Regions from separate parts of the Homo sapiens genome. Here all the other regions are linked to region 3. The links come from fine-mapping of genetic effects on gene expression. A gene starts in region 3. Each other region holds a variant in brackets. All regions are shown on one strand. Distances are from middle to middle.

Region 1 (10,197 bases), 56 kb before region 3:
GAGCATTCTTTTTGCTTTTTAGTTAGCAATATGATCAATGCCTTTTAAAAAATGTATTTGTACATTTACCAAAATAAAATTAGTAATGCACATGGTTTTTTTTTTTTTAAAGGCACAGTATAATACAGAAGGATAGAAAATCTAAAAAGTTGGCCAGGTATGGTGGCTCACGCCTGTAATCTCAGCACTTTGTGTGGCCAAGGAAGGTGGATCACTTGAGGCCAGGAGTTTGAGACCAGCCAGGCCAACATAGTCATATCCTGTCTCTACTAAAAATAGAAAACATTGGCTGGGTGTGGTGGTACACGCCTGTAATCCCAGCTACACAGGAGGCTGAGGCAAGAAAATCAATTGAACCGAGGAGGCTACAGTGAGCCGAGATTGCACCACTGCACTCCAGCCTCAGCAACAGAGTGAGACTCTGTCTCAAAAAAAAAAAAAAAAAAAAAAAAAAATCTAAAAAGTCTCCCTCCTTCTGTCTTCTGTCTGCTTCTCTTCTCCCAAAGGTACCCATTGTTCAAGGGGTTTTGTGTAGGGTTCCAGGAAAAGCTGTGTACATCTCGGGCTGTGTGCCCAGGCACTGCTCCAGGCCCCGCCCCCTTACACTTCATGTTGTATCTTGCAGAGCTTTCTATATCAGCCCATGGTATGCAGCTACTGTTTGGAGAGATTTTTATTATTTAACCCTTAACCTTTTGATAGGCACTTAGGCTGCTATTGAAACTCCACTTCAATATACATCCTTTGCTAATATCCCTGCAGGTAAATTCCTGACAGTGCACTTGCTGTGTTCAAAGGGTAAGTGCCCTTATAATTTAAATGGATGTCTCCAAACTGCCCTCCAAAAAATGACTTAACCTATTTACATCCCCACTATCAAATTACCTGTTTTCTCACACTCTCCCCAACATAGGGTATCAAGTTTTTTAATCTCTGCCAATCCAATAATAAAAACAAATAGTGCCACTCTTTTGATTAGCATTTCTTTTACTACAAGTGAGCTAAACAATTTTTCGTTGGATTAATGGCCACCTACTGTGGTTATGAGCAGGGCAGGGTTCAGATGCCAGCTAGTCTGGATTCACACAACCACATACTAACCCTTGTGAGTGCCAATCAGGTATTATAAAGCAATCACTTAACCTCACTGTAGTTTGTTTCCTCATCTGTAAACAATGGTACCTATTTCATAGGGTTGTTTTGAGAATTAAATGAGAAAACATATGTGAAATGCTCAGTACAGCCCCTGGCATACAGTGAGGGCTTGGGAAGACTCCGCTACCAGTAGTAGTGGCAGTTGTAGTAGAAAAAGTAAGAAGGACAGTTCTTTCACTGGGACCTCTTTCTTCAGATCCTTTGCCTGTTTTTCAGTTGGGTTGTCCATCCATTTCTTACTGGTTTGTATGATTTTTTTTCAAATTAAAGAAATTAGCCATTCATCACTTGTTATAAATATTTTTCGCACCTTTTTGCTTGTTTTGTTTGTAGAATTTCCCTGTTTCTGTAAAATAACTTTTGTTGTCTTTTTTTATGCAAGAAATACCTATTAACTATAGAAAGATTAGAAAATACAAACAGAAGCAAACATCACCTGTAACTTCACATCCTAGATACTTTCTATGAATTTTTTGTAGTCAACTCTTCACTAAAAATGGGATTCCACACATATTGCTTTGATATGATCACAATATATTGTGACTATCTTTCTACACTGCATCCCCTTTTGACTCCCAAAGTCAGTATTTTGCCCTCCTTTCAACACACTTCCCTTCTTTACAGACTCCTGTCTGTTCCAAGTTCAAGAGATGCCCTGTGTCTGAGAAGACAACACAGGCCTTCTCCCAGCCAATGAAAAAAGCTGGAAGCACCAAGATTCATAGGCACCCTTTTCCATAGACAAAGCTTTGAATGCCACTAAGCCCCCTAGAACATGTGCTACAAGAAACAATTAACCAGCAGCCCCCCTGGAAGACTTTGACAGGTGGTGCTCCTGTTATAGCTCATTCCACATTTCCCTGGGATTGCAGAATTACTGAGTCTTATCCATGCCAGGGACAGGTTTGTAAAAGACTGACCATTTTACCAGGGGCTTGACCTCACCAGTTCCAAATAAAGAGATCACCATGACCCCAAGTTTTTTTCTATCTTAGAAATGTTGGGCCAGGCACGGTGGCTCACGCCTGTAATCCCAGCACTTTGGGAGGCCAAGGCGGACAGATCACCTGAGGTCAGGAGTTCGAGACCAGCCTGACCAACATGGAGAAACCCTGTCTCTACTAAAAATACAAAATTGGCTGGGCGTGGTGGTGCATGCCTATAATCCCAGCTATTTAGGAGGCTAAGGCAGGAGAATTACTTGAACCCAGGGGGCAGAGGTTGCAGTGATCCATTGCACTCCGGCCTGGGCAACAAGAGTGAAACTCCGTCTCAAAAAAAAATAATACTAAAATAAAAAATGTTTGACTTGGGGAATTCCTGACTTCCCTACTGGTGGTCAAGGCAGAGACTGTGCAGGCTCCAAAGTCAGTGCACTTGCTGACAGTGCACTTGCTGTGTTCCAAGGGTAAGTGCCTTATATGCCTTAATACTGACACCTAAAGCCCAGTGGGCCCAGGCCGGGAAAATGGGACAGAGGCTCTGCTTACTTTAATTCAGTGTCAGAAATGGTCACAACTCAACAACTCAAAGGAAATTAAGAAACTAAATAATGAGGCTCAGGGCCGGGTGCGGTGGCTCACGCCTATAATCCCAGCACTTTGGGAGGCCGAAGTGGGCGGATCACCTGAGGTAAGGAGTTCAAGAACAGCCTGTCCAACATGGTGAAACCCTGTCTCTACTAAAAATACAAAAATTAGCCAGGTGTGGTGGCACGCGCCTGTAGTCCCAGCTACTCAGGAGGCTGAGGCAGGAGAATTGCTTGAACCTGGGAGGTGGAGGCTGCAGTGAGCCAAGATCGTGCCACTGCACTCCAGCCTGGGAGACAGAGCACGACTCCATCTCGGGGGCGGCGGGGAGGGGGGAAGACGGGGGGTGGGGGGCTCAGAAACAGGAAAAAAAAGTATGGGGAGGGGCAGAAAAGAATCTCATCTTTTACATTTGAGCAGTTACATTATCCAACTAAGTCCGAAGAACAGCTTCTCTTTGGACCCAGGGATCTCATTCCAAAAACAGATCAGCAACCAGCAGGGCCCCATGACTTCCTCTCTCCCACAGGTCTACTCAGAGACACCTGCTCTCACATCAAGTACACCAGAAAGATGGTGCAGGAGTTAGCAGGCAGACTGAGGTTTCAAGAGATAGAGAGAGAATGTTCCCAGACTTTTTGCTCACTAACTACTTCGGTTTTGCGTTCCCATTTGAGACCCCACAGAAACGAACGTGGATTTCTCTACTCCAATGGTGCAGGTGGAACAAACTCCCATTTAGGCTTATTCAATGAATGTAAAATAAAACATTTCTAATAGTGACAACTCTGCAGCCAGTCAGACACGGCGAGTCTCTTCTCCATGGTGTAGGGGCAACCCACCCCTACAACCCACCCCTACACATGGGTTCTGGTTCTCTACCCCTTTACGCAGTTGCCTTTCCTGTTGCTGTTGCAACAGTGACTGTTGCAACACTGAGGGTTTTCAGCTCTGCCCTGCACCCAGAGGAGGTGGCAATCACCACAGAGCCCAGGACAGGAGTGGGCTGCTCCTTCCAGATAACGCAGAAGCAGCGCCCACTTCCTCCCCGCTCCCCGTAGCAATTTCAAGGAAGCTCATTCTGTCGCAGCCAATTTGAAGAAGCAAAGAATGACACTAAACCAATGAAACTAAATCTTACTCTGCATTCGCATGCCCCACGGCATGAGGTTCCACACTGGGCACTCAAAATCCAGGATAGACAGAGCTCATTTCAACCCCTCTAAAAAAGCACGCTGGGCTTCCAGACTTTGTGAGTAGTGGAGGGAAATCATCCAGCCCCAAGTGAACAGCTCCCCAGGCTCACCTTGGGCGTGCAGTGCGCGGTGGAGCAGGGGCAGGAGCCCCGCCTGCCAGAAGGAGTAGCAGCCATCCACCAGCTTGTTGCAGCGGCCCTGAAATCCTCCTTCAAATCGCATCTGCCGGCTTGTCACCCATTGCTGAGGAGACACAGATGGGAAAGGCAGTTGTAGGCTAAAAGAGACAAAATCCAGCCCGACAGAATCTCCAGGAGTCAATCTGTGGGATGGAGGGTTTCCCATCTTGTGGCTTCTTGGCACTCTAGTTTTGGTGCTCTGGTTTTCTTTCCTTCCCTCCCCACACTGCCATAGACACAGAGTGAAGCATTTAAGCCAACGCTGTAGAGGCATCCAGCACTGATCTCTGCTCAATGCCTGGCAGACAACTACCTTTTCCTGGGTTCCAAAGCAGTGCCAGTGCTGAGAAGATAAAGAGGCCAAGCTGGTTTGTAAGGAGACCTTCAAAGTCTCTTAATAAACATGGCTTAAGTTGGAAATTGAAGGCAAGACTACCAGTAGCTCATTTCTCATTACTTCCCTGCTCCGGGGAGTTTATTAAAAGCAGATAAATGGAATTTGGTACTACATTTCTTTTTTTTTTTTTTTTTTTTTTTTTTTTTTTTGAGACGGAGTCTCGCTCTGTCGCCCAGGCCGGACTGCGGACTGCAGTGGCGCAATCTCGGCTCACTGCAAGCTCCGCTTCCCGGGTTCACGCCATTCTCCTGCCTCAGCCTCCCGAGTAGCTGGGACCACAGGCGCCCGCCACCGCGCCCGGCTAATTTTTTGTATTTTTAGTAGAGACGGGGTTTCACCTTGTTAGCCAGGATGGTCTCGATCTCCTGACCTCATGATCCACCCGCCTCGGCCTCCCAAAGTGCTGGGATTACAGGCGTGAGCCACCGTGCCCGGCCTGGTACTACATTTCATCAGATGATCTCAAACTGCTCCTGACTTTTACTTGGCACCTGGGGAAATTTACCCAAGGTCTCTTAGCAAGTCACTAGCAGGCCTGAAAGCAGAAGCCATTCATTCTAATTACCAAATGACAACTCTGCCCAGTCTGTGGCTGATATAAGAAAATCTTTTACTTTGAAGCTGTAAAATAGGTCTTGGTCTTGATGTCACTCAGCGGTCACACACGATACCACCATTCCTTGCTTATCTACAAGTTTTCTAAACACACTCTACTACAAAGATCAAGATAGTCATGGGTTTGGTCCCTCAGAATGAGCAGAACCAACTGGCTGAGCAGATATGACATTTCCATTTCCCTCCCTAGACCACCTAGGCCGTTCCAGCCACGGACTTACAGAGCTGCCTCACTCAACTGAAAGGGTACAGGGGAGGGTACTTCCTGTTTCTAGAGTCTTACTAGGTAAAGGTCCTGAAAGGAGCCACTGGGACCCTTGATGGAAGTGGGGGCCAGCCCTCCCCTAAAAGCTGTTGTTTAGATTATTCCCTCTTCAAGGCAACACCTGCCCATAGAGAGTCACAGTCACAAATGCTTAAAAGAGACAGAAAACACTGTACTGCAGGTTCAGGTACTAATATATCCTCGGTTGATCTTAAATGAACCAGGGCTTCCAGCATGTAATGGAAGTGGGCTAAGCATTACTCAGGCAGAGAGAAAGCAGGCGCTGCAGTGGGAGTCGGTTCCTCATTTCTACTTACCGCAGGGCTTAAGTGTTTTTAAGCAGACTAATTTACTTTTTCCAGTGCCTAAGCCCATGGATTTGTTCTGTTTCCTTGGGCTATAGGAATTCATACTTCAGATATGGGTCCTACTTCTCCCAAAGCAAATGGAAGGGAGTAGTCTGGATTAGAGCAGGGGTCCCTAACCCCCAGACCATGCCAGGCTGCACAGCAGGACATGAGTGGTGGGTGAGCCAGTGAAGCTTAATCTGTATTTACAGCTGCTCCTCACTGCTCCCATTACTGCCTGAGCTCCACTTCCTGACAGATCAGCAGCAGCATTAGATTCTCATAGGAGCGCAAACCCTACTGTGAACCGTGTATGCCAGGCTTCTAGGTTGCACGCTCTACATGAGAGTCTAATGCCTGATGATCTGTCACTGTCTCCCATCACCCCCAAATGGGACTGTCTAGTTGAAAGAAAACAAGCTCAGGGCTCTCACTGATTCTACATTATGGTGAGTTGTATAATTATTTCATTATATATTACA[G/A]TGTAATAATAGAAATAAAGTACACAATAAATGTAATGTACTTGAATCATCCTGAAGCCATCACCCCCCGTCCCACCCCCAACCCCAGGTCCACGGAAAAATTATCTCCCACAAAACTGGTCCCTTGTGCCAAAAAGATTATTACTGTGGGTTAGAGGGACACTAACATTTATTAAGTACCTACTATGTGCCAGGCTGTTTATAAATGTTCTCTCCTTTAACCTTAAAAAAATAAGGATTGTTATCCCTACCTTATAAAAGAAAAAAATATCAAGCTAAAAGAGATTAGACAATTTGCCCAAGGACTCATGTCTCAAATGTAGTAGGGACAGGGTTCAAATCTAGAACACTGTCTTTATAACTGAGGCACTCCCTAATCACATTCCTTATCTCTGCCTGGGAGATGGGACTTTTTTGTTTCATGCCTTATTGGTGTTCAGATTTTAAAACATCTGAGAAACTCTTAAGTTCAGCATACAAAGTTGGCTGTTTCAGCATGAGCCTTCAAGCCTTCATGAATCTTTAAAAAGACTACACCGGGGGAGGCTTTCTGAAGGTGGAGGCAAGACACTGCTGGTTACATGTCTACAGGGTACAACAGAAACTCTCCAGGAAGCTCACGATGGGCCGCATAACGGGAGGCTGGCATCTGAACTCAGGGAGAGGAGGTGCATGTCAGTTGCAGCTGGTTTGCTTTGACGTCATGGTCAGGGGGTACATGCTCCCCAAATGACATGACGGGGAATGCCTTCTCCCTGGTGGCCGTGGAGGTGTGTGTGTTTGTGCACCCACTGATCATTTAACTACAATCTAGTGACTCCCTGAAGCTGACTGCTTTCTGAGTTTCTTCTGAATACTGGCCAGGAGCGTGGGGTCCAGACATAAATGTTGGGCTGCCTTCTCAATGCAATTAGCCAGCTCTGCCTAAACAACTCATTTAAATGTAGGTACTAAATGTTTACACAGTGCAGCAGGTAATAAAAGTTTGGTTTCGAAATGCTGCAAAGCTCTTCTTGTAACTTTTCCTCTTAGGAGGTTCTTTCTATAACACACGATAACCTCTAATTCTACGAAACTGAAGTATAAGGAAGGTACTCTGCTCACACCAGATGTCTGCAGCACACAGTCTATGTAGTCTACACACTATGTAAAAAGCTCTAAGCAGGAAGACAGAAAGGCAGAAGGGGGAGCCAAGACAGAGCAGCTGCTCACTCCTTCCTCTGTGTTGGAACAGAGCTAACTCTCTTAGCCCTTCCCATAGCCAAACTCTCCTGAAGCCTGCATGTCTGAGTACAATCACATCACCATGACCTGGGGCCTGAGAGGGGGATGGCTCAAAAGATACTTACTAATAAGCTCTTCAAGTTCAAGGAACGTTCCCTCTTGAGGATTACCAGCGCGGCCAGGCCACAGAAGGTATAGCCACCATGGGCTTCCATCCCTGGTACCCCGCCAATGCCACCTTCCCAGTTCTGACACCTAAGAAGAGATTGAGAAAAGCAGAATGAGTGGCCAGTGAGTGGACGTACACAAGACCAGGACCATCCTAGGTGGCAGAGAAAAAGTTCACTCAGATTAAGGTGTGAACCATCACAACTATGAATGAAAAGATGCCAACTAATTAACTTTTGGAAATGTCTTTTCAAAAAAAAAAAAAAAAAAAAGCTGGGCCTGGTGGCACCCATGTGTAATCCCAGCTGCTCAGGAGACTAAGGCAAGAAGATCACTTGAGGCGAGGAGTTCGAGGCTGCAGTGAGCTATGATCACACCATTGTGCTCCAGCCCGGGTGAAAGAGTGAGACTAGGTCTCCAAAAAATGTAAGTATAATAAAAACTGTAAAATGTTAAAAACCCAGACACTTAGAAACAGCCTACTTGTGTAAGAAACATAATAATTCAAATTATTACTCTTTGGGAAAAAGTTATAAAATCATACATATACATATATGTACATATATACACATATATATACATATATATATATACACACATATATATACATATATATACATATATATATAGTGATAACCATCAAGTTAAAATAAAATTAAAGAGTGATTGTTGATTCTAGTGATCTTTTATTTTTGAAACAGGGTCTTAACTCTGTTACCTAGGTTGACTGCAGATCATGGCTCACTGCAGCCTCAACCTCCTGGACTCAGGCAATCCTCCCACCTCAGCCTCCTGAGTAGCTGGGACTATGGGCGTGCCCCACCATACCCGGACCATTTTTTGTATTTTTTGTAGAGATGGGGCATTGCCATGTTACCCAGGCTGGTCTTAAATTTCTGGCCTCAAGGAATCCTCCCACCCCAGCATCCCAAAGCGTTGGGATGACAGGCATGGGCCACCGCACTTGGCCTCTGGTGATCTTTGAGTACAGGTCTACTAGTAATATTTTTCCTTTTTGTTTTTCTATTTGTTCAAAAAGTTTTTATAATGAACCTGTATACTATTAAAAAATAAACGTTATTTTTAAAAATTATAATTAGGCCAGGTGGTGATGGCTTCTTAAACAGCCTGCAGAACCATGAGCCAAATAAACCTCTTTTCTTTCTAAGTTACCCAGCCTCAGGTATTCCTTTATACTGACACAAAATGGACTAACACAAGAAGGACAAGAAATAACTGACTTAGTAGAATAGAGAAACCTTTCCTACCCAAAGGATAGGGATGGGAGAGGGGCAACAAAAAGCAAGGTGATCTGCTCCAATAAAAGGCTCCAGGATTAGAGATACAGGGAACCTCCACAAAGTGGAATGCGTCTGAACCAAGTTTGTTGGTTGCAAACTTATATAAGAATCAGACCTTTAAGTCCCCTACTCAAATCCAGCAGAAGATGGGAAGTTTCAGAGGTTTAATCAAAAGGATCTGAGTTCCAGAATATCCAACAAGCTAAGAGGAGGAGGGAGCACTGTACCAAATGTGATTACGTGAGAGTCAGTAATCTCAACACAATACCCCCAGCCCCATTCCTCTGTGTATTTCACACAAGGCTGCCAGTTTCATACCCCAAGCAGGAATTTAGAAGATTCCTCTCTGAGGGAACTGATAAGCCCAAGGGAAAAACCCTACAGACACTGCTTTGAGAATTCCCCAATGAATGGCTTGATCCTGCCCACTCTCGCAGAGCTCCCCAGCAGCTTTTCAGTGCTGGATCCTTAAATATGAACAGACAGCTGTAGAGTACCAGACATTTGACCACAGTCTCTACTATGAAAGAGGAGACCAAAACAAACAAAAATAAATTGGAGGAAATAAGACAGGGAGCAAAAGAAAACTTTTTAAAGTTGTATCTTTAGATAAAATATTATATGAAGTAAGACTATTGAGAGGACAAAATATCCCCAGAAAAGAACAAGAGAGTAGATAAAAAAGTAGTCAGGAAGTAAAAGTAGTCAGGGAGGAAAACTAAAAATAGGATTACAAAAATAAAAACAAGAGGATTAGAAGATAAATACTAAGAGAATCTCTCAAAGTATAAGAAGAAGGATTAAGAGATGGAAACGAACCATGCAATGAAATATTTTTATTTTTATTTATTTATTTTTGAGACAGAGTCTCGCTCTGATGCCGAGGCTGGAGTACAGTGGCACAATCTTGGCTCACTGCAACCTCCGCCTCCTGGGTTCAAGTGATTCTCCTGCCTCAGCCTCCTGAGTACGTGGGATTACAGGTGCATGCCACCACGCCCGGCTAATTTTTGTATTTTTAGTAAAGACAGGGTTTCACCATGTTGGTCAGGCTGGTTTCGAACTCCTGACCTCGTGATCTGCCTGCCTTGGCCTCCCAAAGTGCTGGGATTACAGGTATGAGCCACTGCACCCGGCAGTATTATTTTTATTTATTTATTTATTTTGAGATGGAGTCTCACACTGTCACCTGGGCTGGAGTGCAATGGTGCGATCTCGGCTCACTGCAACCTCTGCCTCCTGGGTTCAAGCAATTCTCCTGCCTCAGCCTCCCGAGTAGCTGGGATTACAGGTACCCACCACCACACCCGGCTAATGTTTTGTATATTTTGTAGAGGCT
Region 2 (10,197 bases), 45 kb before region 3:
TGGGAGGCCGAGGCAGGCGATCACTTGAGGTCAGGAGTTCGAGACCAGCCTGGCCAACATGGTAAAACCCCATCTCTACTAAAAATACAAAAATTAGCTGGGCGTGGTCGTGGGCTTCTGTAGTCCCAGCTACTCAGGAGGCTGAGGCAGGAGAATTGCTGGAACCTGAGAGGCAGAGGTTGCAGTGAGCCGAGATCACGCCATTGCACTCCAGCCCGGGTAACAACAGCAAGACTCCGTCTCAAAGGAAAAAAAAAAAAGAGCAAACACAGAAAACACAAGAGAAGAAATTATCAAAGAAATACTGTAATAAAGAATCTTGGTACTAAAGTATATGCACTTCCAAATCGAGTGCCCAGCAAAATGAATAAAAATAATCCACATCAAGATTCATCATCAAGTTTCCAAACAAGAATAAACATTCCAGGCCAGGCGAGGTGGCTCATGTCTGTAATCCCAGTACTTTGGGAGGCTCAGGAGGGCAGATCACTTGAGGTCAGGAGTTTGAGACCAGCCTGGCCAGTATGACGAGACCCTGTCTCTACTAAAAATACAAAAATTAGTCAGGCATGGTGGCAGGCACCTGAGGTTGCAGTGAGCTGAGATTACGCCACTGCACTCCAACCTGGGTGACAGAGCAAGACTCCATCACACACAAAAAGAATAAAGATTCCAAGCCGCTAAAGAAGGACAGGATGGGGATAGAAAAAGAGAGACAGAAGAAAAAAACATACAGAGAATTAAGAATCACAATGGCACTGCCAGGTAGTACAGCACAGTGGAATCCATTTGATTTCTCTGTATTTCTGCTTAATATAAAATTTAAAGGCTGGGTGTGGTGGCTCACGCCTATAATCCCAGCACTTTGGGAGGCTGAGGCAGGCGGATTGCTTAAGCTCAGGGGTTTAAGACCAGCCTGGGCAACATGGGAAAACCCCGTCTCTACTAAAAACACAAAAATTAGCCAGGTGTGGTGGCATACACCTGCAGTCCTGGCTACTTGGAAAGCTGAAGCAGGAGGATCACTTGAACCCAGGAGGTCAAGGCTGCAGTGAGCCAAGATCACGCCACTGCACTCCAGCCTGGGTGACGAAGTGAGACCCTCTTTCAAAAAATAAATAAATTAAATTAAATTAATTAAATTCAGTATCCCACCACTTGACATATAAGGAAACTATGACACAGAGCAGTGGAATAACTTGTCCAAGCACAAAGCTAATTAGAAATGGCAGGCTGGCCATCGTGGCTCACACCTGTAATTCCAACACTTTGTGGGGCTGAGGCAGGAAGATTGCTTGAAACCAGGAGTTCAAGACCAGCCTGGGCAACACAGTGAGACTCTGTCTTTACAAGACATTTTAAAAATTAGCTAGGTGTTGTGGTGCACACCTGTGGTCTCTGCTACTCAGGAGGCTGAGGTGGGAAGACTGCTTGAGCCCAGGAGGTCAAGGCTGCAGTGAGCCGTGATCATATCACTGCAATCCAGCCAGGGCAACAAGCAAGACCGTGTCTTCAAAGAAAAAAAAAAAAAGCTGGGCGCAGTGGCTCATGCCTGTAATCCTTGAACTTTGGTAGGTCAAGGTGGGTGGATAGCCTGAGCCCAGGAGTTCAAGCCCCACCTGGACAACACAGACAGATCCCATCTCTACAAATTTTTTTTTTAAACATTAGCTGGTTATGGTGGCACGCGCTTGTTGTCCCAGCTACTTAGGAGGTTGAGATGGGAGGATTGCTTGAGCCCAGGAGGTGGTGGCTGCAGCGAGCTGTGATCACACCACTACACTCCAGCTCGTGCAACAGAGCAAGACTCGGTCTCAAAAAAAGAAAGAGAGAATTGAAAGACAGAGGAAGAAAGAAGGAAGAGAAGAGGAAAGAAAGGGCAAAACTGGGATTCAAACCCAGGCTGTCTGAGTTCCGTATCTAGTCTGTGCCTAACCAGTCAACCCCCCTGCAAATGACAGCTGTACACTGAACAAAATACAAAAAAACAGCTTCCTGAGGGTTCAGCTGACTGAAAAAGGGCAGGCAGATTTTGGTGGAGTTTGAAACTTGGAACAGAGAACAGCATGCAGTTAGTCCCTCCCTTCCCCCACAACTTTTTCTCTCTGGTTTGCCCTCAGGATGGCAGCCATAGCCCAGGGCGGCAGCAGCAGGCCAGGGGTCAGGGGTCAGGGCGGGCAGCCAACACTCTAATGGGAAGCCAACCATCCTTCTGGCAGGAAGATGCAGGCTGCCAGAAACTGAGGACGAATCCAGAAACAGGAAAGTCAAAGAAGAAAAATCCCAAATTCTGCATTTAAACTCAGTTCAAGTTTCCACATACGTGCTGGGGAAACAAAGCAACTTCTAAGCAAGAACTGAGCTCTGAGCTGCTGCATGAGTGACAGTTTGTAGCTTGAGTCTGACCAAGTTGACTGCCTGCTAAACTGAAAACATCAACCCCTTTTGGGGCAAACCAACAGAATCCATACCGTTCTGTTGTATGACACCTCCACCATCATATCACAATGTCTAGGACACAACACAACATCACTCAGCACAGGAAGACTCATGGAGCTGACATGCCAACTCCAGGACACACAGATGTGGAAATTCCCAGACAAGCAATTTAAAGCAGACATTATAATTCCATACTTACCACAGCAAAATGAAGAAAAATGCACTCATAAAGAATAAAAAGATGGAAAATCTCAGCTGAGAAACACAAAATATAAAAGAGAACCAAACACAGGCAGTGCCTACTCTCCAGCTCTCAACTATAGCTGCCTTACCATTGAGCATGACAGTCCTCAATGAACTCTGGTTACTATTATCAGCCTTATTAACAATGACATTGGAAGCCAGAAGATAATGAAGCAATGCTTACAAAATTCAGAAAGACTACAGTTTATACCATTGCCAAGTTAGAAATCTCTAACCAAATAATTAAGTGTGAGATTAGAACACAGATACATGCAAGATATTAAAAATGTATCTCCCAGGTACCCTTTTTTGGGATCTGTTGGAGTACAATACTTCATGAAAATAAGAAAACCAAGAAAAAGGAGGACAGGGACTTCAACGAAGGAGAGAAATGAAGTGAATTTCATGCTGAAAGGAAGCTTCGGGATGCCTGCTGTGTAGCAAGCTGAGAGCAATCTGTCCAGACTGAAGCAGGAGGGCAGAGGGCTCCAGAAGGGGCAACTCAAAACGCACGTGTGCACAGAGACAGGTTACCTGAAGGGTTTGACTATGTTTAGAGTAATTTTTTATAGCTCTGACAGACAATTTGGGAAGGAATTCATAAGTACATTCATGATATATCCATTAACTCCAGGAAAATGAAACTCATACAAAAAAGTAAACATGATCTCAGCATATCATCTGGTATCACTGTAAATTATATTTATATGGTAATACATACTACTTTGATAAAAATAAAATTTTTTTAACTAAAACAGTATCTCAGCTTGGCTATCATTCCATCATAGTATATATGTGTCTACTATACCTTTTGCTTCTTTTTTTGAGATGGAGTCTCGCCCTGTCGCCCAGGCTGGAGTGCAGTGGCGTGATCTCGGCTCACTGCAAGCTCCGCCTCCTGGGTTCACTCCATTCTCCTGCCTCAGCTTCCCGAGTAGCTGGGACTACAGGCGCCCGCCACCATGCCCAGCTAATTTTTTGTATTTTTAGTAGAGACGGGGTGTCACCATGTTAGCCAGGATGGTCTCGATTTCCTGACCTCATGATCCGCTTGCCCTGGCCTCCCAAAGTGCTGGAATTACAGGCGTGAGCCACCGCACCTGGCCTGCTTTTTTTAAACTATGAAATATTTGGAGCATCCAGGAAAGTACAGCAAACAAAATATAGAACATACACGTATCTAAGACCTAGCTTAGAATTAGCCATATACACTTCAGGTCTTTGTTGTTGTTAACTATTACAGCTGAAGT[C/T]TCCTATGCAGACTTATCTCATTTCCTTTGCTCTCCCCTCAGCGGGAATCACTATGCTAAATTTGGTGTTTATCTTTCGTATACATGTTTTTATATTATTACCACATGATTCTTCTCAGAAACAATACAGAATTCTCTTGCATGTTTCAAATTTTAAGTAAATGTGCTAATCTGTATGGTTTTTTTGTATTTTTTTCTTTTCATTCTTTCAACTCAACATAGAGATTTTTCCATATTGATACATGTAACTCTAGTTCATTCATTTTCACTGCTACATTATATTCCGATGCAACTATACCACACTTACCCATCTCGTGCTTATGAGCACTGAATCTGCTTTCAGCTTTTGGCTCTTATAAACAAGTCCTGTGCTCCTCTCTCCCATTCGTGTGTGCAAGGGTTTCTGTGGGAGTGGAATTACTGGGTCCTACGCAAGGGCACCTTTGACATACTGTCAAATTGCTCTAAAAACTGGTTAAATCAATTCAGGCTCTCACTAATATTGTTTACCAAAGTTTTTTATCTTTGCCAATCTAAAATATAATATAACATTAAAGAAAGTTTGGAAAAAAGAAGACATTTTAAGTATTTAAAAAAATCATTAGATAACCCTAATGGATCTCCTGTGATTTTTGTATTTCCTTCCAAGTCCCTCTGCATTTTCTTTATTTTTCTGAAGTAGTGTCGTGACCGCCTGCTCTCCAAGAGGCCAGGAGAAACCCTGGCTTCTCTCACCTTGCTATCCATTCAGCAGTGCCCTCAAAGAGGTCTGGAGTGATGATGTTGGTCAGCGAGGCTACGGAGGCAGCACAGTATGCGCTTCTGGAAAGACAGAAACGGGAAACACATTAAGCTCTACGGAAGAGCTAATGAGGCTCAGTGAACTCCGCGGGCGGACTGCTCGCCTTGCCTAGTAAGCTGTAATCACCTCCTGTCCTCACTCTTGGCACACGGTCAGTCCTCCTGGGTCTCCAACTGAGAGGTGTGACATTCTATTTGGATAGAGTTGCTCACGGCATGGCTTCAGTGAAAGAACATGACATTCTATTCTCCCTACCTCCACATGGTCCAATCTACATCAGAGGAAATAACAGCCATATCAATTCATGTCAAAAGTGGATTCAGCTCTTCTTTCAAAGACCTATAATGGTTGCCATAAATCTATGGTATCATTCAGGTACTTCTGATATGCTCATTCATTTGGATGTTAGTACTGTTTCAGAGCCAGGATTTCTGTTTACAGCCTTGACACATTAAAGATTAACTATACTTTTTCTGCAACAGATAAACTGCAAAACAGGCCACCAAATTGTAATAGATCAAACAAGGATAGGAACAGGTGAGTCCACTCCAATACAGTCCTTAAACCTCTAGAGGGAGAAAAGAGCCTTGATTTCAAACCTCTCACCAGTACACACACACACACACACACACACACACACACACACACACGTTAAATGAAAAAGGCGCACGTCTATATTTTTTGTTTTGCTTTTGTTTTGGTTTTTATTGAGACAGGGTCTCACTCTGTCGCCCAGGCTAGAGTGCAGTGGTATGATCTCAGCTCACTGCAACCTCCGCCTCCTGGGTTCAAGCAATTCTCCTGTATCAGCCTCCCAAGTAGCTGGGATTACAGGCGCATGCCACCATGCCTGGCTTATTTTTCTATTTTTAGTGGAGATGGGGTTTCGCCATGTTGGCTAGGCTGGTTTCAAACTCCTGACCTCAAGCAATCCACCTGCCTTGGCCTCCCAAAGTGCTGGGATTACAGGCATAAGCCACCGCGCCCGGGCTATTTTTTAAAAAAGCATTATTAGGCTGGGCACAGTTGCTCATGCCTGTAATCCCAGCACTTTGGGAGGCTGAGGCAGGTGGATCACGAGGCCAGGAGTTCAAGACCAACCTGACCAATATTGCGAAACCCCGTCTCCACTAAAAACACAAAAATTAGCTGGGCATGGTGGCGTGTGCCCGTAGTCCCAACTACTTGGGAGGCTGAGGCAGGAGAACCACTTGAACCCGGGAGGCGGGGGTTGCAGTGAGCCAAGATCATGCCACTGCATTCCAGCTTGGGCAACAGAGTGAGACTCTGTCTCAAAAAAAAAAACAAACACAAAAAATTATTATACTTGATTTAGGATCATTCTTGCTGTTCCATCCTCCCAGCCCTAATTCTTCTCGGGGCACATTTTATTTCAGCTTCTCCCTCTGTCATGGTATACACACACAGACTGCCTTTCCTTCCCCTCTATGGTTTTTTCAAATACCCGGCACAGGGAAGACAAAAATCATTGGTTTGAATTCTGCTCAAAAATCCTTCTCCTGGCCAGGCATGGTAGCTCATGCCTGTAATCCCAGCACTTTGGGAGGCTAAGGCAGGTGGATTATTTGAGGTCAGGAGTTCGAGACTAGCCTGGCCAACATGGTGAGACCTCGTCTCTACTAAAAATACAAAAATTAGCTGGGCATGGTGGCACACGCCTGTAATCCCAGCTACTTGGGAGACCGAGGCAGGAGAATCGTTTGAACCCCAGAGACAGAGGTTGCAGTGAGCCAAGATCCCACCACTGCGCTCCTGCCTGGGCAACAGAAAGAAACTCCATCTCAAAACAAAACAAACAAAAAGTATATTCCTAAGGGCTCCTAAGAAACATAAAAGAAGGGCCTAGTTTCCATCTTCTTTTTTTTTTTTAAGATAGGATCTCACTTTGTTGCCCAGGCTGCAGTGCAGTGGCGCTATCATGGCTCACTGCAACCTCAAACTCCTGGGCTCAAACTGATCTTGCCTCAGCCTCCTAAGCAGCTGAGGCTACAGATGCATGCCACCACACCTGGCTAATTTTTTAAAAATTTTTTGTAGAGACAGGGTCTTGCTGTGTTACCCAGGTTGGTCTTGAACTCCTGGCCTCAAGTGATTCTCTCATCTCAGTCTCTCAAAGTGTTGAGATTACAGACATGAGCCACTGCCGCTCGGCCCTGGTTTCCATCTTACTCAGTATAGATATAACATGAAGTCAGACTTACTGAGGTATTCCAAAGAAGTCTCTGCAGAAGCTGCATGCATTATGATCCTACCAGCATTTTTAGCAGCCAAAGGCACAGTGGAAGTTTAGTTCCACCAGCAGGCATTGGGAGCACACAAGAGTCACAAGTGCCAATGCCAAATGTGATCATCTACCAGCAGCTAATTTTGAAGATCTGTCTAATTTCCTTGCAATTGTAGGCCTCTTAAAGAGGCTCAGATGCATTTGCTCTTGAATCCTATTGTGACTTGTGAGGTAGGAGGCGACCTATAATACAGTTTGCCTCTCACAAGTGTGAGGACTAAGAAGTGATGACAGAAGACAGGAGTCCCAGGTCTCACGCTGAGATGGGGAGGAAACGTAATACAACCTTTTCATGTATTTCTCCCCCTTTCCCTCCACCCAGTCATCGCAGCTCTCAAATTTGAATTTGTCCACTAACTTTCCATCCTTGCTGCCATCACCCAAATCCAAGCCTTCTTCAACCTGGATCAGTCTTCCTGCTCTCTCTCCCTCCAGCCCTGAAACCAGAGGGCTTTTATTGGAACACTACAGTCCATCACTGCAATTGGGAAACTTCTAAGAAAATACAAATCAGATCACATCACTAAACTCCAGACTCCATAGGAGATTTCAGGGCCTCTGTAGCCTGTTCCCAGCCTGTCCCTCCAGCTCCACTGCTCCCCTGCCCACCAGGCCATCTACACTTCAACACTGAACTTGTCCTTTCTTGAGCAACACATGCTTTCTCACCAAACTTCTGCAAATGCTAGATCCCTGCCTCCACCTTATCCTCACAGAATGATCTAGATTATATAACCTAGAAAGGAGGTCTCCTTTCTTAAGAACTGAGAAAAAATAGTGCTTGCTATGAGTTCACTGTGATTTGATTTTTTACAATACACTGGAACTACAGACCCTTGAGTAGGCTCATCTCTGAAACTATCAGCAGTGTAACAGAGCAGAAAGATCATCCAGAGACTGCTGTCTATCCCAGAAGGGCAGCGAGCTAGTCTCCAGATGTCAAACTCTCCCATCACTGCTGCTTTTCTCCAAGTCAAATCCACCCAAACAAGCACTCCTGAGGACTGGCTGATGCTTCCAGGCAAAGGACAATGAAAGAAATGCCAAGTGAAAAATGATGGAATCGGGGTACTAGAAACCAGGCAAAGCAAGGAAAATGGATGCAATCTGCTAGCTTTTCTCTATCATTCATATCTTTAATCCTTTATGTAAATAGAAAGCACGGGCACGAATGGCAGAGCATCACCCAAAGAGCAAAGGTCAGGGAAGAATATGGCTACAGTGCTTGGCAGGGGAACCAAGCTGCCTTACTGGAGAAGTTTCCTAGCATTTATCTAGAACATATAAATAAAGAGCATAGGGAAAAAAAAAGTGCTGGAATGAATAAGATAGCAAATAATCACAGCTGCAAAAGGTATATGATAAAATACCAAAAGGATCTTGCTATGATTTGTTTGCTTTTGCCTAATAATCTTAGTAGGTTTTTAAAAGCTGCGTTTCAAGACTGTGCATATTTTGGGGGAATAGCAACAGAACAGGAACGAAAATGTAGTGAACACGAGGGAAAAAAACTCTTTTAACATTTTCCTTAAGAAGAATCAACACATACTGATTTACCTCAGTCGTTCTACTGGTTTCACTGGTATACACAGATCCTAATCTAATTTTTTTGGTTGGATTAGACAAGTTAGAGATAGAAGAACATCTTGAACTAAAGGCCTTTGCAGCCTGATTACCTATTATCTGTAATGTATTTTATGCTCCACAATGTTCGTGGTTTTTTCCTCCCCTATACTTTCAAACCAATGGTTAAACCAGATGCTTAAGCCAGACTATTAATCAACTTGTGTAGAAGCAAACCCATTTACACATAGGCAGTAAGACAGCTTTGCTATAGAAACCTCACAAAATGTATTTCTCAACTAAATAATAAGAAAATGGCATAAAATCTCAATAAGCCACTGTCTTAGAGAAATGGCTTATTCAATGAATTCCCTGTATGCCTCATAAGTAATCTGCCAGGTGAGGAAGCAACTTGCTTGGTACATCAGACACTTATGGAAGAAAATAATAATTTCGAGCTAACTGGCACCAATCAGTTAATGCGATTTTATTGCACTGCACTCTCCCGGCCCACAAGGCTCTCTGCACCTCCCAGAAAAACTCTCATGTGCCTCAGGAGGACCTCAGGGATTAGACATTCTCATGATTTCATCAAATTCACTCAGAAGGTATTTACTGAGGCCCTGCTGGACTTTCCCCTCCCTTCCTATCTCAGAGAGGTGAAGGAATACATTACACCATACAGTTATTTATATTGTGGTATATCATTTTGTACCAAACAAATGTATTTTTAATTTCTAAAACAAAAGCATTTGTTTCTTATATTTTCACATTTACATAAAATAAGTCAAGTGATCATGACACCTGAGGACATCTGCATCACATCTGAATGATTCTGACGTGTCACTGACATGTCATCCCATGTGTCATTCTGGGACAAAGCAGCAGCTTCCCCATGATGTTCCTTAGGCTTGGCATCTCTAATGGCAGATGAGCTCTAGAGTCAACTGATGTGGCAGCCTGTGCAAAACCCCACTCACCTCACATCCACCTCACCTCCGACATGCATGAGAAAGGAGCCGTCAGGTTGCTTCAGGGAGTACAAATACTGAAGAAGCTTCTCTCTGAGAAACAGGGAAAGAGGTAGGAGAGGCAACAGTCAGTGCGTGTCAGCAGGCGGGGAACTCCTCTAGGTTTCTGTCACTGCTGGCTTTCACTGTACCTGTTAATGATGTCATAGGCCTCCTCGGTGCCAATGATGCACAATGCATTGACTGCTGCATATGTGGGTGCAAGGTGTGGATACTGACCGGGTCCTCCTCCAAAGCCACCTTCTGGGCTCTGACACAGCTCCAGGAACTGACACACACTAGGTACACAGCCAAAGGGCAAAAACAAAGTCAGAGAGCATTCATGTCAAAACACCAAATTCCCACTAGATTCCAGGCCTTTCCAATGATCCCCCACTCCCTCAAAAGTTGAGGGGAACCTCTCCTCCCACTTGTTGAATATAACCTCTCCCCAAAGGGCTTAATTCTCTCTCCAGCTATCATCATTTCTGTCTGCCCTCCTCTGAGTTTCGTACTTAAGCGCTTGTTGGTCATGAAGCAGGGAACACAAGGCTGGGAAGAAACCGACTTTCGTAGCTATGGGGT
Region 3 (10,197 bases):
AAGCAGGTATTTTTCACTTATATACCTAAAAGTACATGTATTTTCAACTTGACCAAAAACAACCTTTTGGACTTTTTAATGGGGAAATTTTGATATGCAGGATTACTTTACACTTGGGCAATATGGTATATGCTGAATTTCAATAAAATAAAATGGATTCAGAAAGCTAGCCTACTGACCACCTAACCAAGCAGAGCTCCAGTCCCTTCTATCAGAGGCATAAAAAGTTGGGAAGTTTTATCATATTTAGTGATTTGTTCCACCTCCATTTACTAATATTTTGGATCCTATAAGCTGAAATAAGTCAACAGCAGGTCAGGATTCTGTTCCGCTGGTCCCTCCTTAGGATATGTGGTGGCCCACTGCCCGAACCTGAAGCCAGCACATCACCTGCCTCTTAATACCCTGATAGGGGCCCACCCGCCCAGCTCACCTCATTTCCTACCACATCCAACCTGCACCCTCCGTTCCTGGTAAGCCATCTTAACGCCCCCAGTCAAGCCTGAGTCTTCCCTCAAAACAGCTCTCCCTCCTTGAATGGCTGCCCCAAACTCTATTTTTTACAGCCCACCCAGTTCCACGTTCTCCATGAAGTCATCCTGACCACCTCAGCCCACACAGATGGCTTTTCAACTCCCCAAAATCCTCGTGCAAAGCAGTTATAATTTAGCACTCTGTGACTGCCTATAGCATATTCTTCTTATTTTTTTCTTTTTTGAGATGGAGTCTTGCTCTGTCACCCAGGCTTGAGTGCAATGGTGCAATCTCGGCTCACTGCAACCTCCGCCTCCCAGGTTAAAGAGATTCACCTGCCTCAGTGTCCTGAGTAGCTGGTATTACAGGTGCACACCACCACGCCTAGCTAATTTTTGTATTTTTTTAGTAGAGATGAGGTTTCACCATGTTGGCTAGGCTGGTCTCAAACTCCTGACCTCCAGTGATCCGCCAGCCTCAGCCTCCCAAAGTGCTGGGATTACAGGAGTGAGCCACCGCACTCGGCCTTACAGCATATTCTTTTTTATCTCTCTAAGATAAAAGAATTTTGAGGGCAGGGATCAAGACTAATAATTCTCTTATATTCCCCTCAGAGTTCAAGTCACTTCATTGACAATGAACCATGCCAATGGTTCAATGACACCATGCCATTTAAAGTGGAGGACGCGTTTGCCTCTGTTCAAAGACAAACTCAAAGAAAAACAGTAGTATCTTTTGTAAACACCTGTTTTTGGCAAGGCTGCTACCTCTGAGACTATCAGTATTAACCTACTGGCCTGAATCAGAGTGTCTGCAATGGGATGATTCCAGATGGCACAATAAGGAAGGCAGGCACTAACAATACAACCATGTCTTGTTCTCTAGTGTCATGAAAGGCCCTCCCTGCATCTGCATTAACAAAACAGCTTAGCAAGGTAGAGACCTTCATAAAAATATCCAGAGCTGACCATTTCTCATTACCTCCACTACCGTCACTGTGAGCTAAGCCACCGTCACCTCTCTCCCAGGATACTGCAATAGCCTCCTAACTGGTTTCCCTGTATCCACCCTCACTCCCCACCATCTACTCTTGACAGTAACCTAAATGAGCCTGTTAAAATGCTAGTCAGACTGTGTCACTCCCCTGCTCAAAACTCTCTGATCATGGATCAGTCTAAGTCCTGGCAGGAAACAGATGGCACAAAGTGGGTGATTTGAGGAGAGTTTATAAAGGAACTATTTACAAAGATGTGGGCAGGTGTAGGGAAACCACAAGAGAAAATGCAGTATCTGGAGCTGGTAAATCAGGGGTACCTGAACTCCTCATAGACCTGAAGGTGTGAAGGATGGAGAGGGAGGGAGACAAAGAGCTCCGCAGAGAAGGCACATGACAGGAAATGTGACCTTAAGTCTAAGGAAACCCCACCCCACACAAGCCTGCAGGAGGGAAGAAATACAGTGGTCTCATTCTTCTCCTTCTCGGTCACCCCCAGCAATACTTCCCATGGCCCGCAGCCATAAAGCAAGGCAACCTGTCAGTGCAGGGCCCCCTCCTGGGGCACATCTACAGAGCAGGCTAGAAAAGGGCCAAGTGAATCTGGGGCAGTAAATGGCAGGTATACAGCCAAGTGGCTCTCCATCTCAGTCAGGGTATTTTAAAGTACTTCCAAAGGCCAATGAGACCCTACATGATCCGACCCATCTCCTACTCTCTGGTTTGCTAAGCCCCCTGCTCACCTGGCATTCTGCTGCCTTGGTCCTTTGTGCTTGCTGCTTTCTCTGCCCAGAATACTCTTGCACCAGATCCATGATGGCTTCCTCCCTCATCTGAGACTTCAGGTCTCAGATCACATGTGTTGTCACCAGAGGGTTCCCCTTAACACCTTATATGAAGACCTCCCCTGCTCCCACCCCACCCATTCCTGACACACCCTATCCCCTCTATCCCAAGGTGTTACTCTCCACAGCGTTTCTAATTAACATTTTATATTGAGATAGCTATAGATATTAACTCTTTTAATTGACTGCCTCATTGGCCTAGAAACAGTTTCATAAAGGCATCAACTTGGCCTCTTTTGTTTAACAACTTATGCCGAGTGTCTAGAACAGTGCCTGGCACGTAGAAGGCGCTCAAGTATTTGCTGAATGAATGAGAATCAACGAATGGAACAGACGACTCACAGCTAAGGACTCCTTCCACTATTTATAGGTTTAACTCCTATTACCAAATTATTGCTTAACAAATAAACCGAGTCTTCTGATAATCAGATAGGAAGCAGGTAACAAGCATTTATTTTTTGTTTGTTTTTTTTTTTAATTTGAAAAGCTTTCATCTTAAATAGACACAGGGTCTTGCTATGTTGCCCAGGCCAGTACCAAAATCAGTATAGTCGTTTTTTGTTTTAAGAGACAGGGTTTTACTCTGTTGCCCAGGCTAGAGTACCGTGGCTCGATCATGGCTCATCTGTGAACTTCTGAGCTCAAAAACAATTCACCCACCTCAGCTTCCCAAGTAGCTGGGACTACAGGTGCATGCCACCACGCTCAGCTACTTTTTTTTTTTTTTTTTTTTTTGGTAGAGACAGGGTCTTGCTATGTTGCCCAAGTTGGTCTCTTGGGCTCAGGTGATCTTCCCGCCTCGAACTCCCAAAGTGCTGGGATTACAGGTGTCAGCCATCAATTTGTTTTTACTGGCAATGGCACAAAATTGAGCTATCAGTAAATGGAAGCTTTAGTTAAAACTGAAAGAGTACTAGTATATCCTCTGTAAACAACTCCTCCTAACAAGGTTGTTACTTTTGATGAATGTATCATTAACCTACCAATGTGGTAGGTCTCTAAACCTCAGTCTTCTCATCCATAAAAAGTGAAAGGATTGAATGATACCACATATGGAGAGCATTTAGCACTGTGCTGAGACTCAATAAATGGTCACTAACATGATTATTAAAACAGTGAGGAAGGCCACAAAAATGAGATACAACATTATCATCCTACTACCTGAAACTGTTCATCCTAGACTCTAATAATGTGTGCTGGAATAACAACATGAAAAAGAAATATAAGATTCTTTACTGTCTGCCATACCGTTGGGTCTAGATTTGAAAGATACTCGCACCAGGAGCAGTGGCTCACGACTGTAATCCCAGCACTCTAGGAGGCCGAGGAGGGCAGATCACTGGAGGTCAGGAGTTCAAAACCAGCCTGGCCACATGGTGAAACCTGTCTCTACTAAAATACAAAAATTAGCCAGGCGTGGTGGTGGGCGCCTGTAGTCTCAGCTACTCTGGAGGCTGAGGCAGGCGAATGGCGTGAACCCGGGAGGCGGAGGGTGCAGTAAGCCAGTGCATCCCAGCCTGGCAACAGGGCGAGACCCCATCTCAAAAAAAAAAAAAAAAAAAAAGGCAATCCCATAGTCTAAGGTCAGATAATAAGTAAAACACTTGACCTGAATCAACTCAGCAATCCATCATTTAGGAATTCTGCAAAGATCCTGTAGGTTTTTCATCAATGGGAAATTTCTTTACAATCTTTTGCAGTCAGCCTTCCCTGGGACACACTGGTAGGCAAACCAACCTGGAGAATTAGCTAGATTCGAGAGGTGAGGATTTCCTTTGCTACCCTAAATTCCATGAAGTTTAAATCTCCAGTTAAAATATTTTCTCTGCTACTTTGTGAATAACCACGTATCAAGCCCTTGTTTCTGTTATAAATTTATAATTCTATTTAGTCATAACTGTACAATAAAACAATTATTGTTACTAATTTTGCCAAAGTACAGGCTTCCAACTTAAAGTAGGAAATACAAAACAGGTCTCTCCAAGGTAAAGCCTGGAGACTGATCTCACTAAGAGATCTTATTTCAGTAAGCAGCAGAATGTTCATTTATTAGTGTTAAGAATTATCCTAACCACTTCTCCTAGGGACAGATGGATAAACAGTTCCACATAGCAACCTTGGGAACAATTCCAATTAGGGAATAAGAAGAAAAACAAAACTATGGTTTTGGGCATATGAATATATACTCATTCGCCAAACACTTTTCAAAATGATAGGTTCGATCCTACTTCTAGGCCTTAGGGAATGATTAGTAGTCCAAAATCCATTCTTTCTATTAGATCACTTTCCAAACTGTTTTCCTGCCTGTCCCCCAACCAGGCTCCTGGTCAGGAGCTGTTTTATTTCCTTGTACTTCCATCGTTTAATATTGTGTCCGACACGTAGCTGGTGCTCAAATGGCTGAATGACTACCAAAATGCCCACCCACGAGGCGGGCCCCCAAACCTGGCACTGTAGGTCAAAAATTAAACAGATCGTGAAACGGCATGACAGCAGCCTGGCCCTGCTCTCTGCCTCCAGAAGCTGAGGGCAGGTTGGGAAAAGTGCACTATGCACCCCAGAACCTCCCGAAGTACTGGCAGAACAGAGTGGGCTGTCCGACCCGCACGGGCTGCCTCTGTCCTCCAGGCATAGAACACGATTCTTCTCGTTCTTTAGGGCAGAGGGGACTCGGCTACTGCCCTCTCCTCCAAGCCCAACCTTGAAACGACCCTTCCCCAAGCTGGCCGCGCAAACGCTCCACGACGAAGCCCAAGCCTGGGCGCCCGGAGCTTCCCAGAGGAAAGGCACCGCGGTGCGCTGTGGGAGTCGTAGTTCCCCGGTGAGTTCCGCACCCGGGCGGCCCTACGAACGGGACTCGCGCTCCCAGAACACATCGCGCGGGCGCCTCGCCCAGTCCTGCCACCTCACCTGTTCTATGGACGTGACTGTTTCCACCGAGTCGTCCTGCAACCGCTCTCGCGCGTGCTCGGGCCTCAGACTGTACAGCGGCTCTGACCAGACGGGGGAGGAAGATGGAGGGCAATAGTAGGTGAAAGAACTCGGAGAAGCCATGATCAGGAGAGCAGCAGACAGTGTGTAGGACTCTGCTTCGTTAAGCAACAACGCGCATTGAAACTCGAGCGGGCTAAAGCGCTACGGCGAGCGGATAGAGGCAAAAAGATTTTGAACGCGAATGTCTCCTCCCGCCTACCCGTCTTTCGAGTGAGTTACTGAGATGCTGCCGCCCCCCATTGGGCAGAGGAGCTGCTGCAAGAGCGTAGAGTCCTGAAGCGCAAGGGTGTCTACATCCGAATTTCATTTCAGCGAGATGGCGTAGGACGCCTCGGTTTGTTACGCAAATTGTTAAAGAACTGTAACATTCTGCTAATTCTCACTTAATTGTAATGCAATTGTTTGCAATTTCAGGTGCCCAAGAACCCAATGAATGTTAAGTTTGAAAGCATTTCTGACAGCTCTACTGATTTGCCTCAGTCAGGCAATTACTAAAAGAATTATTGTGCACCTTGGGGTACTTGACAGCCTCCCAGGAGAAGGCAGCAGCTGCTCAAACGTGCAAGGACGCCGTCTCAGTATCACTCAGTGATGGAGGGAGGGGGGTATTATGATTTTCTCCTGTCTCTTGGAGGTTACACTGCAGTAGCGAGAACTGAAATGCAGTACAAGGAACAAGGATAAGTGAAATAGACAGTCAGTCCGCAGATATTTATGGAACACCTGCTATGTGTCAGGCATTGTGCTAGGTTCTAGGAATACAAAAGTGAACAAAACGAAGTCCCTTCCCTTGGAAACCTTACATTCTAAGAAAATCGACAGAATTGAATGTATCCAACGCAATAAATATATGAAGACTTGTGATAAATGAGATGAAGGAAAATAACAGGGTCTATGAGAGAGACTAAAGGGGTAAGAAACTAATTGAATTGTATGGTCAGGCCAAGCCTCTCTAAATGACCTTTCATTTGAGATCCGAAGGATGACGAGGAGTCATCCAGAAGAACAGTATGGGAAAGAACTCCTGAAAAAGGAAGAAACAGCAGCTTTTAGAAGACATGTGCTGGGCACGGTGGCTCACGCCTGTAACCCCAGCACTTTGGGAGGCTGAGGCAGGAGGATCACTTGAGGAGTTAGAACATCCTGGGCAACATAGCAAGACCTCATCTCTATTAAATATCAAAAAAATTAGCCGGGCGTGGTGGCGCATGCCTGTAGTCCCAGCTGCTCGACAGGCTAAGGTGGGAGGATCTCTTGAGCCCAAGAAGTCGAGGCTGCAGTGAGCTATGATTGTGCCACTGCACTCCAGCCTGGGTGGCAGAGCGAGACCCTGTTTCAAAAAAAAAAAAAAAGCAAAACAAAAAAACAAACAAAAACCATAGGCTCAAGTGACCCTCCTGCCTCAGCCTCCTGAGTATCTGGAACTACAGATGCTCACCACCACGCCCAGCTAGAATAAAAGAAATTCTTATTGATTCTTATGGAGTGGACTTACTCATCACACTTGCCTCCAGAACAACCAAGTTTAAAGTTGTGATTTTTAGGAAAACGCTGCTACCTTTGGACAAGCAATAGAAGAGAATTTATTTTAGGGCATGCATCAAAAGTACTACACCAAAAATTATAATACCAAGAGATTAAACTGGGGGAGTTGTATGTAGGAGATTATAGAAGGTATGATAACAGACATTCCGGGTACACTTGGAGACAAGCTTTACTTCCTGCTCAGAGCACTTCACTCTGTTCCCACTCCATTCCATGTCACATGTCTAGGATCCAGGGATTATAGACCAGAGTGACATTTGACAACCAGCCATTCCCCTGTTCTCAGTCTCTGGTAGTAAATAGAAGCACTCACAAAAATTTCAAAGATGAGGCTGGGCTGGCCTAAAGACCTCAGGTGGATAAATACTACCACCATGTCCATTTTAGTGGTACTGTTGCTGAACTAAGACCTAGAGGCACCAGAATATTACCAAATCTGGAAATAAGGGGACAGTATGGGTTAGGACCCATGGATAAGGCTGCACAATGTGAAATGGTCTCATTATACTGCCCCCTGTATTGGCATCTTACTGTCTTTCCCTTAGTTATATTTTGGGAAATAAATGGTCTGATAAGGTCAGGGTTATATCTAAGGATTCAGCCTTTGTCACAAAGAGTTTCTTTGCAGGAGAGCTGGAAACTTAACGCTTCAATCCTGAAGACTGTGCTATTGAAAGAATAGCTGGGACAGTTTTGTGACAAATTGTTGCATCTGTCACAGATGCACCTAAAGCAATTGCAAACTGTATTTTAGAAATAAAAATTCATCTCTGAAATTCAGTCTCCTCTGCAGTGGGATCCAAAAGATGTGAATAGGAACATGGGCAAGAGTCTCCGGCAGGATAGTGTGTTCTCATTCAATTAATGTTTATTGAGTACAGGGTAAGTGCTGGGCACTGAGCTAAGTGCTAAGGAGACAGCAGTGAACAAGCCAGACACAGTCTCTGCCATTATGGGTCTCATGACTTACCAGAAAAAACATTAAACAGTAATGACAGAATTGACTCTTTCATGACAGTTGGGAGAAATGGGATGAGGCAGAAAGAAGCATGGAGTGTGTGAGCTTGCATGATGGGGGGACCCTAAGGTAGCCTGGAAGGTCTGGAAAGACTCCCATGAGGAAGTGAGTTAATTAATCCAGGGGATGAGAACATCCCAGGCAGAGGAAACCCAGTGACAACACCAAATCAAGTGAAACCAGCAATGAAAAATATGTGGGGTTTGTACTCCATGTAAGCATCAAGAAGACCTGGATCAAATAGCCCACTAGTTGTCCCTCCTCTTGGTTTAATAAAACCACTCATTCAAGAAGCAGAATGAACATAAATATTAATGGTGCTATAGAGAATGATATATTTAGAGAGAAAACTCTTAGTCATGATAATAGCAACTCCAGCTTGGACTGCAGATGGTTTATGTTTATTTTACTCACATGCCTGATACTCTTTTCTAAATTAAACTGATCGTGTTTCTTTAAAAATAATATTAAATGTGGACCGTGCTGTTTTATACTTTTAAGAGCAAGAAAAAGAAAAAAGTAATGGTCTAAATGAACCCCTAGAGGTCGCTTCCGACCCTGGAGTGCGTTTAGGGAGTAAGTTTTAAAACTGCTCTCACCGTTCTCCCTGTTTTCACTCATACAAGCCGTATGTCGGAATGAATTGTTTCCTTTAATATCTTGTGAAACTGTGTAGTAATACATATTGGAACATTTGGAAAATGGAAAGAACTCATCTATTATCCCGCTAGGTAATTAACTTCCTCCCCAAGTTTACTGCCCACCATCATCTGTGCCCTCCTACTCGGCGGTCCTGTCCCTCCTATTCCCCTAGATGGAATGACTGCCCCATCTCCTACCTAGGACCAGGTCATCTCCCTCCCCTCACGCGCCACCCCCCAAAGACTGTCGCAATTCTCCCTTTCCTTTCCTAAAACACCAAATTTTTCCTCTACTTGATCATCCAGATCTCCCTCAAGCATGCCATTTTCTCATTCTTGGCAGCGTGGAGGGTGAGGGGCTTTTTTTTTTTTTTTTTTTTTGAGACAGAGTCTCGCTCTGTCGCCCAGGCTGGAGTGCAGTGGCGCGATCTCGGCTCACTGCAACCTCCACCTCCCGGTTTCACGCCATTCTCCTGCCTCAGCCTCCCAAGTAGCTGGGACTACAGGCGCCCGCCACCACGCCCGGCTAATTTTTTTTTTTTTTTTTTTTTTTTTAGTAGAGACGGTGTTTCACCGTGTTAGCCAGGATGGTCTCGATCTCCTGACCTCGTGATCCGCCCGCCTCGGCCTCCCAAAGTCCTGGGATTACAGGCATGAGCCACCGCGCCTGGCTATGAGGGGGTGGGGGGGGGTGCATCTCTAACCCTCTTGATTCCACTCCTTCTCCAGCTACCTCCCGATGACTCATTGGCGGAGACCCTTGAAAGATTTGCTACTACTAACGTCTCCAGGTCCTCTCTTCCAACTCTCTCAAGCCCATTCTAATCAGGTTTTCCAATCGTTTCTTATCAACTCTCCATTAAATTCCATATCGCCAAATCCAAGGGCCAGGTCTCAGTCCTGATCTCAAGTCTTCCTTCTTGACTTCCCAGCAATATTTGCACAGTTGATCATTTCCCTTCTTGAAACACATTGTCCTTGTGGTGCCTCACACTGGTTTTCCTCCTTCCTTGCCTTTCTAATATCTTGGATACCTTAGCTTGGGGTACCCCAGGATTCAGTCCTCAGACTTCTTATCTGTCTGCACTAACTTCCCTGTCAGCTCAGGCAGTCTCAATGTTTTAAATAACACTTATAGGTTGAAAACTCCCTAATTTGTATCTCCAACCTGGATCTCTCCTGAACTCCAGAGTTCATGTCTAATGTCTATTTGCATTTCCACTTAGATCTCCAATAGGCATCTCAAACTTAACATATCCACAACAGAGCTGCTGGTCTTCCCTTCCAAACTTGTGCACTCAGTCTCCCCGATCTCTATTATGATAACTCCATCCTTCCAGTTACTCCAAATACCTTGGAATCATTCTTGCTGCCTCTCTTTTTCTCACTCCTTGTAAGTTCTGTTCTAAATATATCTAGCATCTGATCACTGCTTACCAATCCCACTGCCAGTGTCCTGGTCCAAGCCACCATCATCTGTTACTTGGATTCTTACACTAATCTCTTAACTGTTCTCCCTCTTTTCACTCTTGTCCCCCTGTACCCTAATACAAACTTGCTATAGACTGAATGTTTAGGTGCCCCCAGTAGTCATATGTTGAAACCTAATCCCCAATATGAAGGTGTTTGAAGGTGGAGCCTTTGGTAGGTGTTTGGGTCATGAGGGCCGAGCTGCCATAAATGGGA

Which allele goes with the higher level. Alleles are on the strand shown, and positions count from the first base shown. SD is a standard deviation of normalised expression in the study named. Not every link is listed here.
For the expression in monocytes of the gene that starts at base 5,426 in region 3, A is the low allele of the variant in region 1 and G is the other (large effect, 1.2 SD a copy in BLUEPRINT).

The links. PIP is the estimated chance that this variant, and not a neighbour inherited with it, causes the effect.
Region 1: its variant is fine-mapped to the expression of FNTB in monocytes (BLUEPRINT, PIP 0.95).
Region 2: its variant is fine-mapped to the expression of FNTB in whole blood (TOPMed, PIP above 0.99). The same link has a PIP of 0.9 or more in blood mononuclear cells.

Annotation. Positions count from the first base shown.
Region 1 is chr14:65,038,237-65,048,433 of GRCh38, reverse strand. CHURC1-FNTB (CHURC1-FNTB readthrough) reads right to left here. Exons shown (of 14, transcript NM_001202559.1): 10 at 7,515-7,644; 11 at 3,991-4,123. It overlaps FNTB (farnesyltransferase, CAAX box, subunit beta), which reads right to left. Exons shown (of 12, transcript NM_002028.4): 8 at 7,515-7,644; 9 at 3,991-4,123. It overlaps MIR4706 (microRNA 4706), which reads right to left and starts at 3,746; the gene lies at 3,665-3,746. It also overlaps a transcript of MAX not described here. The variant G/A (reference allele first, on the strand shown) is at 6,166.
Region 2 is chr14:65,027,167-65,037,363 of GRCh38, reverse strand. It overlaps CHURC1-FNTB (CHURC1-FNTB readthrough), which reads right to left. Exons shown (of 14, transcript NM_001202559.1): 7 at 9,765-9,911; 8 at 9,583-9,666; 9 at 4,668-4,754. FNTB (farnesyltransferase, CAAX box, subunit beta) reads right to left here. Exons shown (of 12, transcript NM_002028.4): 5 at 9,765-9,911; 6 at 9,583-9,666; 7 at 4,668-4,754. It also overlaps a transcript of MAX not described here. Among named protein-coding and RNA genes, the nearest start is that of MIR4706, 12 kb to the left of the region's middle. The variant C/T (reference allele first, on the strand shown) is at 3,933.
Region 3 is chr14:64,982,124-64,992,320 of GRCh38, reverse strand. FNTB (farnesyltransferase, CAAX box, subunit beta) reads right to left here and starts at 5,426. Exons shown (of 12, transcript NM_002028.4): 1 at 5,224-5,426. The coding sequence starts at 5,367. All of the region lies in intron 3 of CHURC1-FNTB (CHURC1-FNTB readthrough), which reads right to left. It overlaps LOC107984655 (a long non-coding RNA gene), which reads left to right and starts at 5,208. Exons shown (of 2, transcript XR_001750792.2): 1 at 5,208-5,641; 2 at 5,722-6,782. RefSeq lists an enhancer at 1,674-1,793.